Linked DNA regions of Homo sapiens: region 2 is reported to be linked to region 1. Evidence: microRNA targets listed by miRTarBase, many of them from high-throughput screens and not tested one by one. Region 1 holds a microRNA gene; the other region holds the end of a gene's coding sequence.

Region 1 (3,403 bases):
CACCCAGGCTGGAGTGCAGTGATGTGATCTCGGCTCGCCGCAACCCCCGCCTCCTGGGTTCAAGCGATTCTCCTGCTTCAGCTTCCCAAGTAGCTGAGATTACAGGCACCCATCACCACACCTGGATAATATTTGTATTTTTAAAAATTCATTTATTTATTTATGAGACGGAGTCTCGCTGTCACCCATGCTGGAGGGCAGTGACACGATCTCGGCTCACTGCAATCTCTGCCTCCTGGGTTCAAGCAATTCTTCCTCAGCCTCCTGACTAGCTGGAATTACAGGAGCACACCACCGCACCTGGCTACTTTTTGTATTTTTTTTTTAGTAGAAATGGGATTTCACCATGTTGGTTAGACTGGTCTCAAACTCCTGACCTCAAGTCATCCGCCCACCTCTGACTCTTTCTGGGATTGCAGGTATGCGCCCCCACGCCTGGCCTAATTTTTGAATGTTTAGCAGAGATGGGGTTTCACCATGTTGGCCAGGCTGAACTCAGCTCCTGACCTTAGGTGATCTGCCTGCCTCGGCCTCCCAAAGTGCTGAGAATACAGGCGTGAGCCACCGCGCCTGGCCATCAACACCTTTTACCCCACAGAAATTATTCTGGCACTGGTTTATGGAACTTCACTTGGGGTCAGGTAGAGGTGAAGGGGACCCCAATGTCCCTTGCAGATGGGATGTGTACTGCTCAGCAAGAGCATGGAGGTGGAGTGCATGGGGTTTGAGTTTTCATTGGGGAAATGAAGCTGAAATCTTGGGTGCATGACCAGGTCGTATATGCAACGAGACGGGCGTCTCACTATGCCGCCCAAGCTAAAGTGGGCTTAGATCCTCCTGCCTCTGGCCCTCCCCAGTCCTTAGTAGCTGGGACTACATGTGAATATTAACTCATGTACAGGAAGAGGAAAGTAAGGACTGTTCTTTGATTCATGCCCCACCCCCACTTAAATTTCTATTTCAGATAAACAATGTATTTGAGATGTACTTGAACAACAAATGATTTGCTGTTTAGGTGTGGGCATCTTTTTTTGTTCCTAATTTTAAGTATAGGACAAGGCTGGGTACCACGGCTCACACCTGTGATTCCATCATTTTGGGAGGCCAAGACAGGAGGATCACCTGAGGTCAGTTGTTTGAGACCAGCCTGGCCAACATGGTGAATCCCCATCTCTACTAAAAATACAAAACTTAGCCCAGTGTGGTGGTGGTACACGCCTGTAATCCCAGCTACTCAGGAGGCTGAGGCAGGAGAATCACAGGAAGCCGGGAAGCTGAGCTCTCAGTGAGCTGAGATCGCACCACTGAACTCCAGCCTAGGCAACAGTGAGACTCAATCTCAAAAAAATAAAAAATAGGCCGGGTGCGGTGGCACACGCTTGTAATCCCAGCACTTTGGGAGGTCGAGACGGGTGGATCACCTCAGGTCAGAGTTCAAGAGCAGCCCCGCCATCAAGACAAAACCTCCTCTCTACTAAAAATGCAAAATATAGCTAGGCGTGGTGGTACACACCTGTAGTCTCAGCTACGTGGGAGGCGGCAGCAGGAGAATCTCTTGAACCCGTGAGAAGGAGATTGCAGTGAGCTAAAATCACACCATTGCACTGCAGCCTGGGCGACTCCATCTCAAAAAATAAATACATAAATAAATAAATACATAAATACATAAAAAATAACCCAGAGTACTGGAGCAAGAAGATCTCAGGCAGTGACCCTCTAGATGGAAGCACTGTCTGTTGTCTAAGAAAAGATCGTGCATCCTTTTAGAGTGTTACTGTTTGAGAAAATCAACGTTGAAGATGCTGCTGATCTTGGTAACACATTTGCAGAGCGTGCTTATCATCAGACGTGCATGATGTTGGGGTTCTGTTTGTTTTGTTTTTTTTTTCCAAGACAGTGTCTCTGTTGCCCAGACTAGAGTGGGTGGCACCTCCAACCGAGATCTCTTGGGCTCAAGTGGTCCTCTTTTTATTTTTTGATTTTTTGAGACCCACTCTGGTTTCACTGGGAGTGCAGTAGCAGAATCTCTGTTGACCGGAAACTCCACCTCTCAGGTTCCAGTGTTTCTACCACCTCAGCCTGCCGAATCATTGGGAATTCAGTTGCCTGCCATCAGGTCTTGCTAATTATTATTGTTTTTTTGTTTTTTTTTTTTGAGGCGGAGTTTCGCTCTTGTTGCCCAGGCTGGAGGGCAATAGCGCGATCTCGGCTCACCGCAACCTCGGCCTCCCGGGTTCAAGTGATTCTCCTGCCTCAGCCTCCCAGATAGCTGGAATTACAGGTGCCTACCACCCCACCCAGCTAATTTTTGTGTTTTCAGTAGAGATGGGGTTTCACCATGTTGGGCAGGCTGGTCTCAAACTCCTGACCTCAGGTGATCCACCAGCCTTGGCCTCCCAAAGTACTGGGATTACAGCTGTGAGCCATCACCCCTAATCTCAAATGGTCCTGTAGAGTCAGCCTAGACTGTGGTCTATCTTGGAGGATGTTTGTGTGTGAGACAATGTATATTCTTCAACATTGTAGATTCCATTTTGGATGCTTCCATCGGGACTGTGTGCCCCTGTCCTGGAACTCAGCTGAACACTTGGCTCAAAATCCATTGCTGTTCTCTGGAAATTCTGCCCTAATCTCTTGGTTAAATATAAGGTATGTGTAGTAGGCTTTGCTTTTTCTCTTTGGGGACAAAACTCAGGAGGGTTGCCCCTTGGTGAACAAGGCTAACCTGCTGAGCCTTTGAAGCAAGGAACTGGAGATGGTCCTTTTAGGGGTTTATGTTCTGGATTCCAGAAAATATGCAAACAGGGCCAATAAATGCATCTTTATTTTGTGTGTATTTTAACCTGGTCAAGGAAAATTCCAACAAGAAACCCAGAGTGCTGGAGCAAGAAGATCCCATGCTGTGACCCTCTAGAGGAAGCACTTTCTGTTTGTTGTCTGAGAAAAAACAAAGTGCTTCCCTTTAGAGTTACTGTTTGGGAAAAGCAGTGTTGAAGTTGATGCTGATGTTGGTAATATATTTGCATGCTTATCATCAGACTTGGATGATGTTGGGGTTCTGGGTTTTTTTTGTTTTCTAAGACAGGGTCTCTGTGGCCCAGGCTGGAGTACAGAGGCACTTCCAACCTAGGTCTCTTGGGCTCAAATGGTCCTTTTTGGGACAGAGTCTTGCTCTGTGACTCAGGCTGGAGTGCAGTGGTGCAATCTCAGCTCACTGCACCCTCCACCTCCTGGGTTCAAGTGATTCTCCTGCCTCAGCTTCCTGGGATTACAGGCACCTGACATCATGCCCAGCTAATATTTGTATTTTTCTTTTTTATTCATTCATTTATTTATTTTTTAGGTGGAGTCTTGCTGTTGCCAAGTCTGGAGGGCCATGGCACGATCCCGGCTGACTCCAACC
Region 2 (3,403 bases), not on the chromosome of region 1:
ATCACTTGAACCTGCGAAGTGGAGGCTGCAGTGAGTTATCATTGTACCAGTGTACTCACCTGGGCAACATAGCAAGACCCTATCTCTACAAAAATAAAAATAAAAATTAGCTGTGTATGGTGGTGTGCACCTGTAGTCCTAGCTACTCAGGAGGCTGAGGTGGGAAGATTGCTTGAGCCCAGGAGTTTGAGGCTGCAGTGAACTATTACTATGCCACTGCACTCCAGCCTGGGCAACCGAGCAAGACCTAATCTCTATAAAAATGAAAAAGACCCTTCCTTCCAACAACGTTAAACCACTAGAGATGTTTCGTACTCCCTACAATTTTTTCTCTCTTTCTGTTCACAATACATTGGGACTTACAGGCAGAGTAAGAGTCAATGGAAGCTATGGTAAGAAAGTCAACAGAGGGCTGGAGGAACAATACCAACAGCTAGGATTCTCTACTCCCAGATTTGCTAACAAGCATTGATTTGCTCCACTGATATACAACACAATCTGAGGGAAGATCATTGAAAATCTAGGATCTTTTGGTCTAAAGTTGGAATCATGGGGAGGCATTTTCTCAACCTTGTTCATGTCTCTTTCCTTTGCAGGGCAACAGGCTTTGGCTTCTTAAATGCGCTATGCAAGGCAGCAGCCGTCCTGGGAAACTTAATATTTGGCTCTCTGGTCAGCATCACCAAATCAATCCCCATCCTGCTGGCTTCTACTGTGCTCGTGTGTGGAGGACTCGTTGGGCTGTGCCTGCCTGACACACGAACCCAGGTTCTGATGTAATGGGAAAAAAAGCCATCCTTCCTGCGTTTCTTCCTCCTGCCCTGGGTCAATTCTCCTTCCTGACTCAAGGCTTCAGAGTTTTCCTATATAGAAAGGTGATCAAGTATCAGAACATAAACACGTGCTGTGACTTAAAATTTAGAAGCATATCATCTTGCCCCTTTGTGATTTTGCACAGGTTGTTTGTTTGTTTTGTTTTGTTTGAATGCATTGTTATCTTTCCAAACTGTGATGCTACTGCCTCCCGCAAATCAGTGGAAGCATTTCTAAAATGCCCTAGGCAGCCAGGCTTCCCTGGGGTTCTGCTCATTGAAAGTTTAGAAGCTAAGAAGACTGGGCTGGTGTAAGAAATAGATCCTGCTCCTAATTTAACATTAACAGGAAATATAAGTCGGCACATTATTGCATTTGTGCTGAGAAGAGGGATTCTTTTTTTTTTTTTTTCTAACAGAGTGATATTTCCTGTTTACTTAGAAAAGGACACCCAGTAATTCTCACTGTTATAGCAGAGCCTTTCAAAGAAAACCATGTGGCACCAAACAGGGCTGGGTGGGGCTCTTTGGGGCAAGACAATTAAGGTGACCGCTGACAAGAAAAATAAAAGCTCTGCAATTAGCAGCAAAAATCTGAGTGTGCTGCATAAGCAAGATTTCTGTCAGAAAGCCCAATTAAACCTCTGAAAAGTGTGAGGAAAAAGAACTGTAACAGTATCTGTGACTGTGGCATGTGGTTCAGAATGTTTGAAAATCAGAGATCCGAGAGAGAGCTTCTGCCTCCATTTACCACTCCCACTCCTTCAGCTGCCCTTGGTCTTGCCAGACAGCAGATTCAGGGAAAGAAAGCTGCTTCTTAAAAACTGTCTGCCTACCTGATTCTGCCACTTACCCACACTGTCTCTAGTCTAGAGATTGCCAGTGGATAGCTAAATTGTAAATTGCAAATTAGGAAGAAATTCACACCCAGAGCCATTTGGAAATACAAAATGGTACCTCTTTCCAGTACCTCTTTGCTGTGGGACTGGCCCGCCAGGACCCCCACCCCACCTGGCCCGCAGTTGACATTCAGCTTCCCAGCTGGCATCAGCAAAGAGGGTTTGTCCCTCTAGCTTCCCCAGGGCTGGCCCACTGCTCAATGCGCTCCTGGCTCCCTGTAAAATCACAGCCCGCCTGCACTCCTGAGGGCCCCTCTCACAGACAGACCATCTCCCTGTGGTTGTTTGACTGCTCATTTTACCTCTGGAATCTGCCTGGGCTTGGAAGAAAGAGGTCAGCCAGGACATTCCCACGGGCCCGCTGTCAGCTACATGACCTTCTCGCCTCTCAGGCTCCCCTTCCCCCAGGCTCGTCCTTTTTACACCTCTTCTTTGAAATCTGAACCTTCCTTGTAGACTTGCAGCCAATGACCAGAAGCCAGGAATAAATCCCATATTTAAACAATATTCCTTTTTTAACTGCCTCGATAGAGGTTTATTCTTGTTACTTATTATAGGCATTTTCAGGCAAGCCATAGCTTGGGGCCTCCAGGAAGGGAAAGCTTTTGTTTCCACTGATCATTATTTTCAGAGATGTCCTAACTCCCCTGAGGCCCCCCTGCCTCCCCCTCCCCTTCCTAATGATCCCTCGCAGAGCTCAGACTAAGTGAAAAGCTTCTTTCATTAACATAAGCCATTAATCGACTTCCCCTTGAAGTAATTCAGGTCTGCAGAGGGGGGAAGACTGGTGTTGGGGGCAGTGGGAAGAGGGTGGTTCCCTGGGGGTCTGTGATCAGGGCTAGAACATCAGGAAAACCCGAACCAAAAACTGCAAAGGTGGCAGGAAGAAGAAAAATCACTGAAGGCTAGACAAGATGCATTTGAAAGATACCAACCGCACAGGGAAAGAAACAACTTTCTCTCACTTCTGCCTCCTATCATTTTATTGGAGAACAAAGACAGCAGTCAAACAACCCAAGAAAGTACCCTGTATGTTTTTCTTCTTCCACATGTACCCATTTTCCCACCTATCTCTCCCTGATTTGTCTTCTTTAAAAAGACATTTGGGGACCTGAGCAGGTCTTTTAGTTGAATGCAGCATGTGCAGAAATAACTGCAAAAGCCAGGAGTGCATCTCCATCAACCCATCAAAAGAAAAATAGAAATGTACATGGGCATCGCTGTCTCTAGTCCTCTGTGATAGTTCACTTTGCTAACTAGACTACCTTTACTTTTCAAAATATCTCTAATGTCTGCTCTGGGGTCTAAATGCATAAAACATCTCCCAAGCTGCAGAGCACAGTTATTCAGAATTTTATTTGAACACTGGGTTGGGTCAGCATAGGATAAACCAGCAAAACCTTACTTCATGAGACCTGCCATCCGTGTCCCCTGCAGAAGGACCGTTCTTGGCCTACTTGTTACCTAATCCAAGCATCCTTGGTGGCCTAAGAGGGATCTTTTCTCATCTCCTGGACAGTCTGTGGTCACAAACCTTCTTGGTCACCACCTCTCCCACCTTTTGTGCACTCTTCCCTGCCTCCTTGAGACTGTTCATCACCTTGATTTTCTAAGAGAGCTCAAATCATTTCCAAAGCATGTGGTGTGGCCTGTATAGCTTGCTCCAGATTTAGCTGGAGATTAAGAAACAGC

What was found. The annotated mature microRNA hsa-miR-517-5p reads CCUCUAGAUGGAAGCACUGUCU and lies in region 1 at 1,714-1,735, shown strand. An mRNA with a match to its seed (bases 2 to 7 or 8) in the 3' UTR can be bound and repressed. Matches are read on the target gene's strand: a 7mer-m8 pairs with bases 2 to 8, a 7mer-A1 pairs with bases 2 to 7 and ends in A, and an 8mer does both.
Region 2: the mRNA of SV2C is a reported target of hsa-miR-517-5p. Seed matches in the 3' UTR shown: 8mer at 1,681-1,688.

What each region holds. Positions count from the first base shown.
Region 1 is chr19:53,739,619-53,743,021 of GRCh38, forward strand. MIR517C (microRNA 517c) reads left to right here and starts at 1,695; the gene lies at 1,695-1,789. MIR520H (microRNA 520h) reads left to right here and starts at 2,894; the gene lies at 2,894-2,981. LOC124904765 (a long non-coding RNA gene) reads left to right here. Exons shown (of 6, transcript XR_007067334.1): 2 at 2,527-2,649.
Region 2 is chr5:76,324,768-76,328,170 of GRCh38, forward strand. It overlaps SV2C (synaptic vesicle glycoprotein 2C), which reads left to right. Exons shown (of 13, transcript NM_014979.4): 13 at 597-3,403. The coding sequence ends at 780. Among named protein-coding and RNA genes, the nearest start is that of SV2C-AS2, 15 kb to the left of the region's middle. RefSeq lists an enhancer at 665-1,164.